3 linked regions of the Homo sapiens genome follow. The protein of the gene in region 3 interacts with the protein of the main gene of each other region in a biochemical or structural test. Each region holds a gene or a part of one and is shown on either strand. Other genes may lie near its edges.

Evidence for each region.
Region 1: the proteins of KCNJ4 (region 3) and DLG1 form a complex in vitro, tested with the Homo sapiens proteins (2 studies listed by BioGRID and IntAct, with this or other methods).
Region 2: the proteins of KCNJ4 (region 3) and SNTA1 interact in a test that uses a peptide from one of them, tested with the Homo sapiens proteins (2 studies listed by BioGRID and IntAct).

Annotation. Positions count from the first base shown.
Region 1 is NC_000003.12:197,064,522-197,071,636, reverse strand, and holds part of DLG1 (disks large homolog 1), read left to right. Parts: intron 1-2,376; coding exon 2,377-2,418; intron 2,419-3,099; coding exon of another isoform or gene 3,100-3,135; intron 3,136-4,882; coding exon 4,883-4,933; intron 4,934-5,827; coding exon 5,828-5,929; intron 5,930-6,172; coding exon of another isoform or gene 6,173-6,186; exon of another isoform or gene 6,187-6,188; coding exon 6,189-6,361; intron 6,362-7,115. UniProt on the Homo sapiens protein: Essential multidomain scaffolding protein required for normal development. Recruits channels, receptors and signaling molecules to discrete plasma membrane domains in polarized cells.
Region 2 is NC_000020.11:33,433,664-33,440,778, forward strand, and holds part of SNTA1 (alpha-1-syntrophin), read right to left. Parts: intron 5,364-7,115; coding exon 5,178-5,363; intron 1-5,177. UniProt on the Homo sapiens protein: Adapter protein that binds to and probably organizes the subcellular localization of a variety of membrane proteins. May link various receptors to the actin cytoskeleton and the extracellular matrix via the dystrophin glycoprotein complex.
Region 3 is NC_000022.11:38,425,763-38,431,250, reverse strand, and holds the end of KCNJ4 (inward rectifier potassium channel 4), read left to right. Parts: intron 1-3,079; 5' UTR 3,080-3,118; coding exon 3,119-4,456; 3' UTR 4,457-4,924; downstream 4,925-5,488. UniProt on the Homo sapiens protein: Inward rectifier potassium channels are characterized by a greater tendency to allow potassium to flow into the cell rather than out of it.

The sequences.
Region 1 (7,115 bases), on a different chromosome or scaffold from region 3:
GAAGAGGAACATTTTCAATTATCAGAAGAAAAACATTTTATTTTTCTAATAACATTCCAAACAATTATGATGACGCTATTCTAAGGACCATACTTTGAGTAGTGAGGCTTTATTGTAGAAGAGCTAAGTGAAATGATATTTGAAAGAACCTGCAGAATTTGATTGTGGCGTAGCTTTTGGCAGTCTTAGAGGGTTTGAGGTGAGTAGGAGAAATCTCAAAAAAAAAAAAAAAAGACAGTGAAGAGATTTTGGTAACTTAAACTTTTTATTATATAAATATCAGATATATTCAATAGTAGAAAAGTAGTAAAAATAAACCCTGCAGGTATTTGTTTATCCAGCTTTCATAATTGTCAACTGAACATTTGCCAATTCTGTTTCTTCTGTACTCCCACTTACACTCCCCTCCCTTCACCCCATTGCAATAACTAATTTTTCTTTAGTTTACAAACTAGAGATTGCAGAGGGTAATACCAATACTAATGTAAACAGAATAACTCTTTTTTTAATGTGGCGTGTTTCTGGGTATGAAATTTAAGGAAATAGGACAGAAAGTTAAAAGGTATATATAAATGAAGACATTCATAATTGTTGATACTTGTGAAAAACAGTTTAAAGCAAATAAAAATATCTAATAAATAGCGAGGTAAATAATGTATCAATCTAATAGAATATTATACACCAATTTTAAATTATTGCTGTCAAGCCCATGTGGTGACATGGAAAGAAATATTTTAATATGAGCTTTTAAAAAACCTACCATTTGGCCAGGTGCGGTGGCTCACACCTGTAATCCCAGCACTTTGGGAGGCCAAGGCAGACAGATCACGTGAGCTCAGAGGTTCAATATCAGCCTGGCCAACATGGTGAAACCAGTCTCTACTAAAAATAGAAAAATTAGTTGGGCATGGTGCTATATACCTGCAGTGCCAGGTAGTCAGGTGTCTGAGACACAAGAATAGAATCGCTTAAACCTAGGAGGCAGAGGTTGCAGTGAGCTGAGATCGTGCCACTGCACTCCAGCCTGGGCAACAAAGGGAGACTATCTCAAAAAAAAAAAAAAAAAAAAAATGAAATTTCCAGCTGGGTGTGGTGATTCACACCTGTAATCCCAGCACTTTGGGAAGCTGAGATGGGAGGATCCCTTGAGGCCAGGAGTTTGAGACCAGTGTGGGCAACATAGTTGAGACTTGTCTCTTTTATTAAAAAAAAAAAACAAAATTTTAGCAGGGCATGGTGGTACATACCTGTAGTCCCAGCCACTCTGGGCTAAGATGGGAGGATCACAGAAGCCCAGGAGAGGAGGGCGAGGCTGCAGTGAGCTATAGTCATACCACCTCACTCCCACCTGAGCAACAGAGTGAGGCCCTGTCCCTTTAATTAAAAAAAAAAAAAAAAGTTAAAATAAAAATTCAGATTTCCCTGTCTCATTGAAAGTTTTATTTTTATTTTTTAAAAATAAAAGTATTAGTCTTTGTTTAATTGAAGGGAGATATTTATTGAGAGAAAACTTGAGATGACATTTACATGGATGAGAAGAGTGCCTATGGTTTTACCAAACAATAAAGTCGTGAAATGGAGTCACTTTTAAGGAGGGCCAGGCAGTTTCTGGCTGGGTGTGTTTGTTCTCATTGTCTTTTTTATGTTTTGCAAAAGCCAGCCAGTGCCAGTCTTATCAAAGCAGAGTTTCTAAGAAATATTAGTTGGTTTTAAAATGCAATTGCCACCATCGGTGCCTTCCCTTCCAGCTGAGACATCTGAATTTATGACTTCTAATATTAGTTGGTTTTAAAATGCAATTGCCACCATCAGTGCCTTCCCTTCCAGCTGAGACATCTGAATTTATGACCTTTACAATCCTTTATCTATATGATCTCAGAAACATGGATTTTCATCTTCAGAAACAGGAGCAAAGCTGGATTGAAAATAAGATCATCTATTTATTTTTAATTACAAAGACATCCCGTCATTAAAATGGGCATCTATTTGTTTAAATATAGTTTGTCCCCTTTGCCAGTTAACGCTGTTTCAAAAACTGAAATAGTGCCAACAGTATTTTCTCCTTTGAGTTTTATGTCTACATTTGGACTAATTCAGGGTCACTTAGCCCTTTTTGTCATATTCTACTTGCTATTTATAATAGATTTGTTCATAAACTGTGTTGTACAAAAATAAGGCATTGTCCTTAATTACAGGAGTTTTCCTTTGCTAATATATATTTATTATTTGAAAAACTTAAACGTTTCAAAGAAAAAGAAAATGCTTTTAAAAAATTATTTTGTTATATATGGCTTATATCTCAACATTTCATTTTGATTATTTGCTTTTTAAACTCATGACACTGTTTTATTTTTTTTCATTGTCCTGCAATTTCAGAGCATGTAACTTCTAATGCCAGCGATAGTGAAAGTAGTTACCGTAAGTGTTTTAAGTTACTTGTTCTTTTGTAATCTCGAGTAATACATCCTCTGCAGGGGTGGAGGGATTCTGAGTGATATGTTATAAAAACCTGAAGTTATATGATCGTTATTTTAAAATCAGGGAGAGACAAGTAAAATTCTGTACTTGAAAAATAAAATCATACTATATATGTAGAGGTTAATTTATAAAATTTTAATAAAATAAAAATATTATTTGTGTACATGATACATATGTATATGTATATGTATTTTTTGTAAGAAGTAAATATCTAGTTAAATGGGGGAAAACTTGTATTTTGACCTTCTGTTTAGTAATTGGTTTTAACATGAGCACTAAAATAATATTTTTCAGTAATGCTAAATTATCATTAGCTTTATTTCCATTTTTATTCTTTGTCACCAATACTGATCTGGGTCATGTCATTGTTTATCACCAGCACTTGGTGAACGGAAGAAATAAGGAAACATTTTCAATGATCACCTGAAAAATAATACTAATTTTTCTTTTGCTGTTTTATATTACATTCTTGGTTTTATTAAGTGAACTGCACAAGCATGTGATGTTTTAAAACAGACTTGGGCATGGGAGAAGGGGAGGGTACATAATATCAGTTGTAGCACCTTAAAAATTAAAATTACTTTTCTAACTTTCTTTTTTTACTGCTGTCTAATATGAAAGTAATCTTGATTACAGATGAGTATGGCTGCTCAAAAGGTCCATCCTGTTAATATCAGTCCCTAATACTTTTTCATGTTGACAGTATATACTTTTAACCGTCATTCATTTGGTTGATTATTTTTCTACACAATAGTTACTTAATGATTTTTTTTTTGGTGTGGAAATGATTTCCTGTATTTCAGCATTTTATTAATTATAACCAGAACCCACTATAGGGTAGTTGAGTGGCTTTCTAGGCTAAAAAGAGGTAATGAAAGTATATACTGTCTCTCACCATTTGCATGAATTATTAAGGTGTGAAATATTCAAATTGCATGTGTTTGCTAGTATGTAAGCCATGTTTCACATCCAGTACTTTAAAAAACAGCTTATAAAATATTGGTCTTATGTACTTTGATAATAAAATTGAAAACAAAGAAATACTTCTAAAACAGAAAAGAATGTTTATGCCAATGTATGGATTTAAAAGACCTACAGCTACATACATATAATATAAACCAATTGCAAAATTCATGGTAAAATTGTTATAGGATCTTGATAATTAAAGAGAAAGTCTTCAAATACATTATCCAATATTGATTGCTTTCATTGAACCACTTGGGTTAACACAGTCTTTTCTAATTTTAGGCGTGGGGGTGAGGGGGGATGTGTGTGTGTTAGTTTAAAACTCCTAGAGTTTTTGGCCGGGCGCGGCGGCTCACGCCTGTAATCCCAGCACTTTGGGAGGCCGAGGCGGGCAGATCACCTGAGGTCAGGAGTTCGAGACCAGCCTGACCAACGTGGAGAAACCCTATCTTTACTAAAAATACAAAATTAGCTGGGCATGATGGCACATGCCTGTAATCCCAGCTACTTGGGAGGCTGAGGCAGGAGAACCGCTTGAACCCGGGAGTTGGAGGCTGCAGTGAGCTGAGATCATGCCATTGCACTCCAGACTAGGCAACAAGAGCGAAACTCCGTCTCAAAAAAAAAAAAAAAAAAAAAAACTCTCAGAGTTTTTAACTATTTATTTCTTTTCACTGGATTCAGATATTCAGATATAATTTGTAGACTCTTTTATTTAGAGTATTTCCTAAGCTCCGAACCTTTAATTTAACCTTTAGAAGCTTTAACTTCTTGTGTTTTTAAGGTCAAAGCAAATATATTTATCTCCTTTACTATCACTGTTGTTTATTTTCTTGGAAGGATTTAGTTTTATCTAAAGCTCTTTTTGACTCACATTAAATTTATTATTTTTTTACAAAGTTGAGTTAGTGAATTTTTCATCAGTGAAATAGTAACAGTAGTTTTACCTTTGCATTTATAATTTTTAATTTTAAGATGTAATTATTTTAAAAATAAAATATACTGTATTCAGTATTGTAGTTGGTGGAACAAAAAAAGTAGCATGTTTTTAATAGTAACAAATTACCTAATACGTAGATAGATGATAGACAGATCTGCTCATTAAAGCATTAATCTTTAACAGATTTAATAATTCTTAGATTCTAAATAAAGGAGTAGCACATAGCATCACAAATGAAGATTTTTAGATTTGATTATCTATAAAATATAATATTGATTATATAGCCCATTTGTATTTTGTTTTACATTTAGCAAACTCACTTTTAAGACTTTATAATTTGACACTTTTTTTTAACTAAATCTTGCCATAAAGTACCTCTTTCCATATCTTTGCCATTTTCTCAGGAAAGTTCTAGTAATGTATATGTTGTTTATGAAGAATTAGATTAGCATCAATTATCTTTACACATTTTTCATCTGTGCCTTCACTTTCTAATAGGTGGTCAAGAAGAATACGTCTTATCTTATGAACCAGTGAATCAACAAGAAGGTTTGTGAAGCCTATTGATGTTTTATAACCTTCTAGAAGAATATACTTTTTAATTTGGGGGAAAAAAATTCTCATACCCCAAAAAATGTTGTATTAAAATTTTTTTTTACTACATATACATGTAGAAATTTACTACATGTGTTTTATGAAACATAGTTTACTCCACAGAATATTAGAATCTAGTCATTTCATACTGACTTTTATATTTGTGTTTTATTTCCCAAGCAACTTTGTTCCAGTGTTCTTGTTAGCATCACTATCTTCCAAATAACCCTTTTTTGAAAATCTTGGAAGTATCTTTGAGCCTTCTCTGTTCCTCCTCCTCCTCCTCATCCAGTTAGGTTCCAGGCACTGTTTATCCCACTTCTTTCTTATTTATGACCTTCTTTTCATCCCTTCTATCACAATGTTAGTTCTCAGTCTCACTACCAATCTCCATTATTCCAGCATGATCCCAGACCACCCAGAGTTTACACTTCTGTTAGATCATCTTTCTAGAATGCTACTACTGGGATTATATCACTTCCTACATCCAGTTTCTGTTCTGCCCTTCTTTGCTCTGCTTCCTTACAATTTCTACTTCAAAGCCATCTGTAAAACACTAGACTTTATTCTGTCATTTGCAATGTAAAGAAACATTATCTGCGAAAACACCAAATTTAACTTGATTGAATTATCAATATGACTTCTAGCAGAAGACTAAGTAAAGTTTAAGATCTGAGTCAAGATTATAAAAGAGCAAGTTACGCATCTTTGGTTGATGGTAGAGTGAGATGGAGAGGGAAGAAAAAAATTAGTCATAACAGTTAAGGATATTTTTGTTCGCTGGTGAAATAAAATACATTGATATTTGTTGAATGTTTATTCCTTTTAACATGCAGTTTATCTTTATAGTTAATTATACTCGACCAGTGATCATATTGGGACCTATGAAAGACAGGATAAATGATGACTTGATCTCAGAATTTCCTGACAAATTTGGATCCTGTGTTCCTCGTAAGTAAACCAAACAAAAACATTTAATTGTTACTCTTAACATTTCCTGTCACTGTGTGTGGGAAAAATAGATATAACCATTTTTTAATGGTTTGTACTTATTTTATCAGTTACTCTTCCATCCTCCATATTATTGTCCTTTCTCAGATTTAAATTAATCTGTTCTGTTGAACTTTACAAAACGATGTAAGTAGAAAATGGATTTATTGTGGTTTTTTTTTTAATATTAAACACTTTCCCAAGTTTTTTTCTGTTAAAGATACAACTAGACCAAAACGAGATTATGAGGTAGATGGAAGAGATTATCATTTTGTGACTTCAAGAGAGCAGATGGAAAAAGATATCCAGGAACATAAATTCATTGAAGCTGGCCAGTATAACAATCATCTATATGGAACAAGTGTTCAGTCTGTACGAGAAGTAGCAGAAAAGGTAAGCATCAGACTAATCCCAGAATATAGCTTCTAATCAGATATGCCTTTGACAGTATGCAAGACTGGTAGGATAGATACAGCACTAATTAGTTTTGTTAATGTGATGAATTTGCTTACCTAAATAATTAATTTTCCATGGCTTAGGAAAGTGCATACAAGATAAAACAGGTAAATAAGGTAAACAAAGAAAGTGAAAATAGAAATGATAACATGAATGTAAGAGAAGTTATTTTCAGGTCATTTGCTAGAGATAGACCTTTTGTTTAGGCCTAGCTCTCCAGCATATATTAAAAGGAGATAAGGGCCGGGTGTGGCAGTGCACCCTTACAGTCCTAGCTACTGAGAAGGCTGAGTTGAGAGAATCACTGAAGCCTGGGAGTTTGAGGCTGCAGTGAGCTATGAGCATGCCACTGAACTCCAGCCTGGGCAACAGAACAAGACCCTGGCTCTTAAAAAAAGAAAAAAAAAGAAAGATCAATAAATCTAACCACTTAAAATTTTTAAAAAACTTTTTTTATGGCCAAAGACTTTTTCCAAAAACTATTGGAAAACACCATTAACAATGTCAAAAGACAACTGACAGAAAAAATTTGCAAGAAAAGGGCTAATATTCCCAATATATAAAGAACTCATAAAAACAGGGAACAGAGACCAGAAACCCAATAGAAAAAAACAGTGGACAAAAGATCAGAATATATAGTTCACACAAAAATAAGATATAAAATGGCCTTTGTACATAGGAAATGACGTTC
Region 2 (7,115 bases), on a different chromosome or scaffold from region 3:
CTCCCTCTTCCCCCAGGCCTGGCCTTCAAGGGCCCAGGCTGGCCCTGGCTTGAGGTCTGCACACACAACGGGCCTCTCGAAGCAGCGGACAGACACTTGTTGGCTGCCAACTTGGGCCCAGACTGTGGTCACAAACACACCCCTCTGGCTGAGAACAGGATCAGGACATTTCTGCAAACCCCTGACCTAGTAGAAGAAATGTTCTAGGAGGCAGGTTGGGGTTGCTGAGGCTCAGCTGAGCCCCCAACTTAGGCCAGGGAAGTAAGGCTCTAGCTGACACCTGGAGTTTGCTGGTAATGCTTGTTCTCCCAGGACATCCTCAGGGGATTCACTATCCACTGAGCTGGAAAAATATCCAGTTGCCTTGCCAAGTTCACATCCAAAGGACAGGCCATCCTTCCATGGCCCCTTGGAGGCGTCCTCAGTAATGGGATGTGAGTGGGGAAATGTTGAACAATGTGGTCAGTGATTCAACTCCGGGGAAACCTAGGCCCAGAGAGGGTCCCAGGAACCCTGGCTGCTCCAGACTGGTGCAACTGCCAGGCCCAGACCTTCTCCACTCCCCAAAGTCTCAAGGACCAGCCACAGCCCAGCATCCTCCTATCCTTCAGACCTCTCTGATCACTCTTGCCATTCAGAGATTCCTGACTCCAGTGCCTTCCACCACTCCTCCTCCCCTCTTTGTGCTATCTTGAGTGGAATGACCTCCTTCCATGAGATCTTGGGCCAGGAGAATAGGTCGAAAAAGACTTCAACTAAGGAAAAGTGGGGAAAAACATGAAGGCCACATTCTTCTTTCTCTTACCCAGGCCATAGGCAGGGTTCACCAAGGAATGATCTCGTCCTGTGAAACATCTCAGAGAATATAAGAGCAGGGGCCCCTCAGTCCTGGGATGATACACATGTTACTTCTCTACTGCATCTGTAGTAGACATTGCTAATCAATTCCAGCTCCTTTCTGCTGAGCCCAGACAAAGCCTCCCAATCCTTCCAAATATGGAACTCACAGAACCACCAGTGGAGCTGACGCTTACACTCTTTTTTTTTTTTTTCCTACAGAGATGAAATCTCACTGTGTTGCCCAAGCTGGTCTCGAACTCCTGGGCTCAAGTGATCTGCCCACCTAAGCCTCCCAAAGTGTTGGGATTACAGGCGTAAGCCACCACGCCTGCCTGGAGCTGCCACTCTAAATAAAAGCTATTGATCACCTCTGATCTAGCCTAACTTCAATAGGAAAACTGAGTCCCCTAGAAGGCAAGGGTCTTACCCAAGGCCAAACAGAGATTTATTGCAGAGCAGACAGGATTTCAGGCACCAGCTTTTTTTTTTTTTTTTTTTTTTTTTTTGAGATGGATTCTTGCTCTTGTCGCCCAGGCTGGAGTGCAGCGGCACAATCACGGCTCACTGCAACCTCCGCCTCCCGTGTTCAAGATTTTCCTACCTCAGCCTCCTGAGTAGCTGGGATTACAGGCACGCGCCACCATGGCTCAGCTAATTTTTGTATTTTTAGTAGAGACGGGGTTTCGCCATGTTGGCCAGGCTGGTCTCAAACTCCTGGCCTCAGGTGATCCACCCGCCTCAGCCTCCCAAAGTGCTGGGATTACAGGCGTGAGTCACAGCACCTAGCCACCGGCTTTTAAAGAGTTTCTGTAGGCCAGGCATGGTGGCTCACGTCTGTAATCCCAGCACTTTGGGAGGCCCAGGCAGGCAGATCACTGAGGCCGGGAGTTCGAGACCAGCCTGGCCAACATGGCAAAACCCTGTCTCTACTAAAAATACAAAAATTAACCAGGCCGTGGTGGTGCACACCTGTAATTCCAGCTACAGAACTGAGGCAGAGAATCGCTTGAACCTGGGAGAAGGAGGTTGCAGTAAGCTGAGATCGCACTACTGCACTCCAGCCTGGGCAACAGAGTGAGACCCTGCCTCAAGAAAAAAACACAGTTTGTGTAGAGGAGATAGTGTTTATGTTTTGTCTACCCTACCACATGGTGAGCTCCTTCAGGAGAGGCCCTGGGTGTAGTTTAGCTTCTGACCTTAATATACACAGCAGGCACACAGTAGATGTCCATGAATGTCTCTTGGCTTAGTGAGGAGGAATGCATGACATGAGTTAGAGGGAAGGCTTGAGTATTCACTCCTAAAGTCAGAAGATGCTTCAAGGTCACACATTTACAGATACTACCTTCTCAAAACGACATACATGGGAACCCAGATAGATACATTTTTAATCTAAAGATGAGGAGGTGGGCCGGGCGCGGTGGCTCACGCGTGTAATCCCAGCACTTTGGGAGGCCGGGGCGGGCAGATCACAAGGTCAGGAGATCGAGACCATCCTGGCTAACACGGTGAAACCACATCTCTACTAATAATACAAAAAATTAGCCAGGCGTGGTGGCGGGCACCTGTAGTCCCAGCTACTTGGGAGGCTGAGCAGGAGAATGGCGTGAACCCGGGAGGCGGAGCTTGCAGTGAGCCGAGATCCCGCCACTGCACTCCAACCTGGGTGACAGAGCAAGACTCTGTCTCAAAAATATAAATAAATAAAAATAAAAAATAAAGATGAGGAGGTGAGGGGACCTCCGTGTGAATGTGGATTTGAATTGTGTCTATAGCAGAAATTTTACCATAGACTAAACTTTCAAACAACAGAAGCTAAAAGAGCTTTCAAGTCAACTAAAATATGACATTTCGATGAATGTCAGTGGTTTCAAACCGCATTGCTGACTATAAATATCAAAGTAATGAGGCATGTGGGGAAAGTCTCTTATATCCATATCATTTATGTGGCATTCTATTATTTAACTTTGCCATTAAAATATGATTGATACACTTAAGCTTCTAAGGATCAACACTCTAGAGTCAGCTTTTTTTAAGTATCAAAAAAATGCATCTAGACTGGGCACTGTGGCCTGCAATCCCAGCACTTTGGGAGACTTAGGTGGGAGGATCCCTTAAGCCCAGGAGTTGGAGACCAGCCCAGGCAACATGGTGAAACCCTGTCTCTACAAAAAATTGGCTAGGTGTGGTGGCTCACGCCTGTAATCCCAGCACTTTGGGAGGCCGAGGCAGGCAGATCACGAGGTCAGGAGTTCGAGACCAGCCTGGCCAATATGGTGAAACCCTGTCTCTACTAAAAATACAAAAAAAAAATTAGCCAGGCGTGGTAGTGCGCACCTGTAGTCCCAGCTACTCGGAAGGCTAAGGCAGAAGAATCGCTTGAACCTGGAAGGCGGAGGATGCAGTGAGCCAAGATCGCGCCACTGCTCCAGCCTGGGCGACAGAGTAAGACTCCATCTCAAAAAAAAAAAAAAAAAAAAGCTAGGCGCAGGGGCTCACACCTGTAATCCCAGCACTTTTGGAGGCTGAGGCAGGTGGATCACAAGCTCAGGAGTTTGAGACCAGCCTGGCCAATATGGTGAAACCTCATCTCTACTAAAAATAAAAAAATTAGCCGGGCATGGTGGTGGGTGCCTGTAATCCCAGCTACTCAGGAGGCGGAGGCAGAAGAATTGCTTGAACCCGGGAGACGGAGGTTGCAGTGAGCCGAGATCATGCCACTGCACTCCAGCCTGGGCAACAGAGTGAGACTCCATCTCAGAAAAAAAAAAAAATTAACCAGGTGTGGTGGCATGCATCTGTAGTCCCAGCCACTCAGGAGGTTGAGGTGGGAGGATTGTTTGAGCCCCGGGGGGTGGAGGGTGCATTGAGCCAAGATCATACTACTGTACTCCAGCCTGGGTGATAGAGCAAGACCCTGTCTCGAAAAAAAAAAAAAACAAGAAAAAAAAATGCATCCATGGCATTTAAATAGATATACCTAAAATATAAAATAAAACTTTACATTTTATTTTCTTTATTTAAATTTTATTTTATTTTATATCTGGGTCAACCAAGGACCGAGAACCTATTTGCTTCTGTGGCCTCTTGGACACTCCTTTAGGGAAACCAAGGCAACCCACCAGGATTTGGGCCTGGGACTCAACTCAGCAGCTTCTCTGGCCGTGTTATTCTCCATCAGCCCCCGCCACCTCCCTGTGCCTGTTCTGGGCCATAAGCCAGAGACACATTCCTCAGGCCCCCACGGGGCTTCCAGAGCTGACAGAGTTTGAGGAAAGGGCTGAGCAAAGCAGAAACCTCTTGAGAGACATGGCACAAGATGGTCATGGGACAACCTCAGCAGGAGGCGTGTAACAACTGATGGGGAAACCGAGGCCCACAGAGGGCAAGGGTCCCACCCAAGACCACACTGTGAGGGAACAGTGGAGAAAGCCATTCAACCAAGGTTCCTCCACAAAACTCCTCTCTGATCCTGGCTGGAAGGATTTGATGTCCTACTCTATAAAAGCCAAGGCCTCTGGGCGTGGTGGCTCATGCCTGTAATCTCAGCACTTTGGGAGACTGAGGTGGGTGGATCACCTAAGGCCAGGAGTTCAAGACTAGCCTGGCCAACATGGCAAAACCCTGTCTCTACAAAAATATAAAAATTAGCTGGGCATGGTGACGCACACCTGTAATCCCAGCTACTTGGGAGGCTGAGGCAGGAGGATCACTTGAACCCAGGAGGCAGAGGTTGCGATGAACCAAGATCATGCCACTGTATTCCAGCCTGGACAACAGAGCAAGATTCCATCTCAAAAAAAAAATAAAGTAAAATAAAAGCCAAGGCTTCTCCCAAAGGAGGATGGGTCTTGGGGTTTTAAGGCCCAGGCACTAAAAGAACCTGAAGTCAAGAGCTCTCCAGGCCCCACAGGAAAGAATCTGACCTGCCCCTTCCCCAGTCCGCACCCCTCTCTCCCTGTGTCACTCAGGTGCTGGCACACTCTGCCATGTACATTTTTGCCCTAGTCGCAACAACCCAGAAAGGCAGGAGCTACATCCCTGTTTTACAAATGAGGAAACTAAGGATCAGGGAAATGAAGTGACTTGTCCAGGGCTACACAGCTAGTGACTGGAAGACAGAAAATGCAAATCAGGTCTGCTTGGCTCTATGCCAACTCTCCCTCCACCACCCCACACTGTCTTCAGGCAGGTCCCCAAATTCTGTTTCTGTTTTCAGTCCTGCCCACCTCCCAGCCCCCAGTGCTGGGATGGGGCCTTCTGAGGCCTGGGGGAGGTAGAGAAGCAGTGGAACACCTCCACCCAGCCCCTCTGAACCCTGGAACGTCAGTGCTTACCCTCCAGCACCACCTCCTTGCCTGTCTTCTTGAGGACCTGCACCGCCTCATCATGGGTAGCAGAGGACAAGTCTTCCCCATTCACAGACAGGATGGCATCCCCCACAAAAAGGGCCTCTGTCTGGTCAGCTGCCAATCCCTTGAAGATCTTGGAAATGAGAATAGGCATCTTGTTCTCCCGGCCGCCTGCACAGGTACAGAAGGAGGACAAGACTTAGGCAGATACTCCAACACTTGGGAGTCACATCAAGACACAATTATTTCTGAAGGCTTCCCTTGGTGCCTAGCCCAGTGCTGGAAAAGGCAATGGGAGAATAAAGGGAATCTGAGAAAAATCTTGGAAGTTTGGGACACTAGTAACACTAATAATAAATCATTTTTGATTAGGTCCGGTGGCTCATGCCTGTAATCCCAGCACCTTAGAAGGCTGAGGTGGGCAGGTCACCTGAGGTCAGGAGTTCAGGATCAGCCTGGGCAACATGGGAAAACCCCGCCTCTACTAAAAATACAAAAATTAGCCAGGCACCTGTGGTCTCAGCTACTAGGGAAGCTGAAGTAGGAGGATCACTTGAGCCCAGGAGGTCGAGGCTGCAGTGAGCTGAGATTGTGCCACTGCACTCCAGCTTGGGTGGCAGAAGGAGACCCTGTCTCAATAAATTAATTAATTAAATAAATCATTTTCAAAATTCATAATGCTATAGTTTGATCCCTGGATCTTTTGATTAAGTGCTTTGGGTGTTCACCAGTGTTTGTGCAACTTACAAAGTGCTTCAATCACTTTTTCTTAAATGTTTTCGATTTTCTCATGTAACCCATAAATATATATGCCTACTATGTACGCACAAAAATTAAAAATGAAAATAACCGGACAAAGTGGCTCACACCTGTAATCCCAACACTTTGGGAGGCCAAGGTGGTCGGATCACTTGAGACCAGTAGTTTGAGACCAGCCTGGCCAACATAGCGAAATCCTGCCTCTACTAAAAACACAAAAAAGGGCCAGGTGCGGTGGCTTATGCCTGTAATCCCAGCACTTTGGGAGGCCAAGGCTGCCAGGTGGATCACCTAAGGTCAGGAGTTCGAGACCAGCCTGGCCAACATAGTGAAACCCTGTCCCTACCAAAAATACAAAAAATTAACTGGGCGTGGTAGCGGATGCCTGTAATCCCAGCTACTCGGGAGGCTGAGGCAGGAGAATCACTTGGACCCAGGAGGCGGAGGTTGCAGTGAGCTGAGATCACGCCATTGCTCTCTAGCCTGGGCAACAAAAGTGAAACTCTGCTCAAAAAAGTAAATAAATACATAATAAAAAAATAAACAAATAAAAAAATATGGCTGGGCGTGGTGGCTCACGCCTGTAATCCCAGCACTTTGGGAGGCCAAGATGGGCAGATCACCTGAGGTTAGGGGTTCAAGACCAGCCTGGCCAACATGGCAAAACCCCATCTCTTCTAAAAGTACAAACATTAGCCGGGCATGGGGGCGCATGCCTGTAATCCCAGTTACTCGGGAGGCTGAGTCAGGAGAATTGCTTGAACCGGGAGGCTGAGGTTGCAATGAGCCAAGATTGCACCATTGCACTCCAGCCTGGGCAATAAGAGCGAAACTCCATCTCAAAAAATAAATAAATAAATAAATAAATACAAACACAAAAAATTAGCTGGGCCTGGTGGCACATGCCTGTAGTCCCAGCTACTCAGGAGGCTGAGGCAGCAGAATTGCTTGAACCCAGGAGGTGGAGGTTGCAGTGAGCCAAGATCACACCACTGCACTCCAGCATGGGCGACAGAACAAGACTCCATCTCAAAATAAAACAAAAATACAAAAATTAGCCAGGCATGGCGGTGTGTGCCTATAATTCCAGCTACTCAGGAGGCTGAGGCACGAGAACTGCTTGAACCCAGGAGGTGGAGATTGCAGTGAGCCGAGATCGCACCA
Region 3 (5,488 bases):
AGGAAGAGATCTCGTCTGCAGCACCAGGTGAACTCGCCATGTCAGGAGGCAATCCCACCGGGCAGAGAACCAGGGATCCCCTGGAACCCTGGGCTTGTGTTTGGCCTTGGGCAGGGCCCCCCACCTTCTCTGGAGCTCAGTGACCTCACCCGTTGAAGGCCTGGGCCGCCACACCCTGTCCCCTCTGCCTCTATCCTGCACACCTGTGGATGGTGGTCCAGTTTGGACTGGCTGGTTTCTTCTCTTCCCTTGCCCCAAAACCCACTCCAGCCCCCTGCAGGGAGGAAGTGGATGAGGAGCTCTGGGGTGGGGGTGAGGCCTTGTTCAGGGCTGGCCCACCTGGCTCCACTCTGGGACTCTTAGCAAGTCCTTCCTATCTCTGGATGTCCTTGGTCTCCGATATAAAATGAGGGTCCTGAACTCGGTGACCCTATGCTCCTCCTGTCCTGACAGTCCGCGGTGCCCCTGGAGCCATTTCAGGCAGTGGGACAGAACAGGGGGAATACATTTAGCAAAGAAAGGCCTCCCTGAAAACTCTATTTACAGAGCAGAAGGTGTGCCTGGCCCCAGAACCCCAAGCCTTTCTCCTGGAGCCCTGGCTGCTGGGATGCTGCGGGAGGGGGCAAAGAGGGTCTGGGCCTCCCAGCTCTGAAGGGCCAGCATTACGTTAGAGGCCGTGCCTGCATGACCTGTCGGGTCTCCAGCATGATATCTCATTGGCCCAATTTTCTCATTTTCTTTTTTTTTCGAGACGAAGTCTCACTTTGTTGCCCAGGCTGGAGTGCAGTGGCACGATCTCGGCTCACTGCAACCTCTGCCTCCCAGGTTCAAGCGATCCTCCTGCCTCAGCCCCCCAGTAGCTGGGATTACAGGCACACGCCACCATGCCCGGCCTAATTTTTGTATTTTCAGTAGAGACGGGGTTTCTTCATGTTGGTCAGGCTGGTCTCAAACTCCCAACCTCAGGTGATCCACCCGCCTCGGCCTCCCAAAGTGCTGGGATTACAGGCGTGAGCCACCGCACCCAGTCAGCCCCATTTTCAAGATGAGGAAACTGAGGTTCAGAGTAGTCAACAGCTCGCCCAAGTCACACAGTGGATCTAGGACTTCAACCCAGGACTGTAGGAGCCAGGGAGCTCTTTGAGAACCAGGGGAATAGGGAGAAGAACTCGGAGTCAGGGTGGGTGACCGCGGGGGAGGAGGTGGGGGCAGGGCTCACTCTCCCTGGGCCCGGAGAGGGAGTTTCTCTTGGGAAGAGGCAGGCTCTGAGGCTGTTGATCTCTAAATTATAGCGTTGGCGCGTACCGGTTGCTGCGGCAACCGAGTTGTCCTGAACCGGGGAAGTGTATAAACATTGCCACAGATGCACAATTAGATCAGGAAGAAGAATAGAACAGAAAATAGAAACTTCCAGCCTTATGTAATTCTGGGCCAAAATGTTATTGGGAACCCAGGCCCAGTCCTGGCCCTGCCAGCTGCTGGGGCCTGGGGCAGCAGCATGTCTTCCCTGGGGACGCAATGGCAGAGAGGGGTGGAGAGAAGGTCTGTCCTCTACGGGCCCGAGGCGCATCCCGCCACCCAGTGGGGTGAGGGGCCTCTTCTGCTGCAACAGCTGGGGATGCTTGACAGGCAAATCCTGCCTGTCACCAGCTCCTGGGAAGTGTGGGAAGGAAGGCAGGAGGGTGATGGCTTTACCCCAGCACCTGCTGTCCCCGTAGGTCCCATGAGGTAGGGAGTTTTGGTGCCCATGTTACATGAAGACATGGAGGCTCTGAGAGGTGAACTGAATTGCCCGAGGTGTGTCCTCCCCTCCCACTCCCTGTCTCCCCGCCATCAACTCATTCATGTTGGTGCCACGCAAGTTTGTATCCACTGCCAGCTTTGTGGCTGGCAGGTGGCTTTCCATCTCTGAGCCACCTGGGACATGGGAATAGCGATGTCTACAGAGGAGTCAGAGCTGGGGGCTCCCCCTTCCTCCACCCTGACTGTCACATTGGATTCTCCCCTCACCACTGCTCCTAACAAGTGTGGGCACTGGGCAGGAATTTGGGCTCAAGGACTCAAAGCAACACTGGGAGAGAAGAGTCTAAGAAAGGAGCTCAGACCCAGGTGGGGCTGCGGGTCCCAGTAGAACTTTTTCTTTCTTTTTTTTTTTTTTTTTTTTTTTGACATGGGGTCTTGCTCTGTGACCCAGGTTGGAGTTCAGTGGCATGATCACAGCTCACTGCAGCCTTGACCCCCTGGGCTCAATAGATCCTCCTGCCTTAGCCTCCTGAGTAGCTGGTACCAGAGGCATGCACCACCATGCCTGGCTAATTTTCTTATTTTTTGTAGAGATGGGGTCTCACTCTGTTGCCCAGGCTGGTCTCAAACTCCTGGCACAAACAATCTTTGCATCTCGGCCTCCTAAAATGCTGAGATCACAGGCATGAGCCCCTGTGCCCAGCCAGAAATTTCTCAGTGATAGAACTCTCCTGTGTCTTCTCTGTCCAGTGTGGTGGCCGTTGACCACATGTGGCTCCTGATCACTTGAAATGTGGCTCATGCAAGGAAGGAGCTGCAGTTAATATTTTATTTCGTTTTAATTAAATGTAAAGAGCCACACGTGGCCAGTGGCTAGTGCACAGGAGGATGTCCAGCCCCCGAGAAGCCCAAAAGTGCAGAGATGGAATCCAGGGAGGGAAGCGGGCTTAGCGCCTCCGTGGCTCCCTATGCTCAGGGCAAGCAGGACAGAGGGACAGGGAGGAACCAAGATGGGCATCAGGAAGCTTCCAGAACAGTGAGCATAGGAGGGCCGGAGGGGCAGTGTTGAGGGGCAGGGACTAGGACCTGGATCCTTGTGGCTTTAGCTTCCTGGTCTATGGACCCCAGTCTCTAAGCTGGGCCGGACTGGGTGGCACTGGCTCAGACCCTGTCATCAGAGCCACCTCTGCTGCCACCCTCCGCCTGCCGGGGCAGAGGAAGTCTTAGGTCCTGGTCCAGGCTCACCTGCTTCTGAGAGTCTTGGGGCTGAGTCTGAGTGGCCCCGAGGGAGCCCCTCGCTCCCCAGCATCTCACCTGTCCGGCTTCTCCTCCGCAGGCCCTGCGTCTTCCCAGGTGACCACGCCGGCTTCAGGACATGCACGGACACAGCCGCAACGGCCAGGCCCACGTGCCCCGGCGGAAGCGCCGCAACCGCTTCGTCAAGAAGAACGGCCAATGCAACGTGTACTTCGCCAACCTGAGCAACAAGTCGCAGCGCTACATGGCGGACATCTTCACCACCTGCGTGGACACGCGCTGGCGCTACATGCTCATGATCTTCTCCGCGGCCTTCCTTGTCTCCTGGCTCTTTTTCGGCCTCCTCTTCTGGTGTATCGCCTTCTTCCACGGTGACCTGGAGGCCAGCCCAGGGGTGCCTGCGGCGGGGGGCCCGGCGGCGGGTGGTGGCGGAGCAGCCCCGGTGGCCCCCAAGCCCTGCATCATGCACGTGAACGGCTTCCTGGGTGCCTTCCTGTTCTCGGTGGAGACGCAGACGACCATCGGCTATGGGTTCCGGTGCGTGACAGAGGAGTGCCCGCTGGCAGTCATCGCTGTGGTGGTCCAGTCCATCGTGGGCTGCGTCATCGACTCCTTCATGATTGGCACCATCATGGCCAAGATGGCGCGGCCCAAGAAGCGGGCGCAGACGTTGCTGTTCAGCCACCACGCGGTCATTTCGGTGCGCGACGGCAAGCTCTGCCTCATGTGGCGCGTGGGCAACCTGCGCAAGAGCCACATTGTGGAGGCCCACGTGCGGGCCCAGCTCATCAAGCCCTACATGACCCAGGAGGGCGAGTACCTGCCCCTGGACCAGCGGGACCTCAACGTGGGCTATGACATCGGCCTGGACCGCATCTTCCTGGTGTCGCCCATCATCATTGTCCACGAGATCGACGAGGACAGCCCGCTTTATGGCATGGGCAAGGAGGAGCTGGAGTCGGAGGACTTTGAGATCGTGGTCATCCTGGAGGGCATGGTGGAGGCCACGGCCATGACCACCCAGGCCCGCAGCTCCTACCTGGCCAGCGAGATCCTGTGGGGCCACCGCTTTGAGCCTGTGGTCTTCGAGGAGAAGAGCCACTACAAGGTGGACTACTCACGTTTTCACAAGACCTACGAGGTGGCCGGCACGCCCTGCTGCTCGGCCCGGGAGCTGCAGGAGAGTAAGATCACCGTGCTGCCCGCCCCACCGCCCCCTCCCAGTGCCTTCTGCTACGAGAACGAGCTGGCCCTTATGAGCCAGGAGGAAGAGGAGATGGAGGAGGAGGCAGCTGCGGCGGCCGCGGTGGCCGCAGGCCTGGGCCTGGAGGCGGGTTCCAAGGAGGAGGCGGGCATCATCCGGATGCTGGAGTTCGGCAGCCACCTGGACCTGGAGCGCATGCAGGCTTCCCTCCCGCTGGACAACATCTCCTACCGCAGGGAGTCTGCCATCTGACCTCCAGGCCCGGCCCTCACCACTGCCCACAAGAGCCTCTGCCGGGGGTGGGATGCCAGGACACCCCCTCCCACACTCAGGACAGAGCCAACCCTGGCTCCGTGGACCTTCTGGAGGAAGGTGGGGGTTTCAAAGACTGGGGGACCCCTTCCTCCTGACTCCAGCACCCAGGCCTGGGAAGAGCTCGGCCCCGATCAGCCTGAGTTCCGCCAGCGCCTACTTCTGGTGGCTCTAGGTCCCCGGATCCACCACCCTTCCCCCACTGACTCTTCAAGGACGTGCCCTCTTTGCTCTCAGAACCTTGGGGAAGGTGGCTGGACTGCTGGGCGGGGGACATCTCGGGGTTTCAGGGTGGGCAGGGGGTTAGTTTGGGGAGGGGGGGGTGCGTTTCTTTTGCATGACTGTGGCCTGTTGCTCATGACTTTCTTTTGTAAATATCTATAAATGGAGACAGATGGAGACACCAAATTCACTTTCTGCCGTTTTTACCTGCTGGACAGGGAGATGCAGTCCCTCTCTGTGCACCCCTCCCCACCCAGCCCATCAAGCCTAGCGCCTTCCCCTGCCCAGCTGGCTGGCCCCTTGAGGCCCTCAACGCCAGCCACCTTGGCCCTTGGATGGTGTTGGGTTTGGGTGCAGAGGAGGGACTCTGAGGGGTGGGATGAGGGACCATCCCTCCCTCCCTGCAGTCCCTCCAGCCCCGGGCCCAGCCCAGATTGACAACAGAGTTTGTAACCATATATATATATATATATATATATTTTTTTTTTATTTTTTATTATTATTTTTTTTTCTTGAGACGGAGTTTTGCTCTTGTTGCCCATGCTGGAGTGCAATGGAGCAATCTCGGCTCACTGCAACCTCCGCTTCCCAGGTTCGAGCGATTCTCCTGCCTCAGCCTCCTGAGTAGCTGAGATTACAGGCATGAGCCACCATACTCAGCTAAGTTTTGTATTTTTAGTAAAGATGGGGTTTCACCATGTTGGCCAGGCTGGTCTCGAACTCCTGACCTCAGGTGATCCACCCACCTTG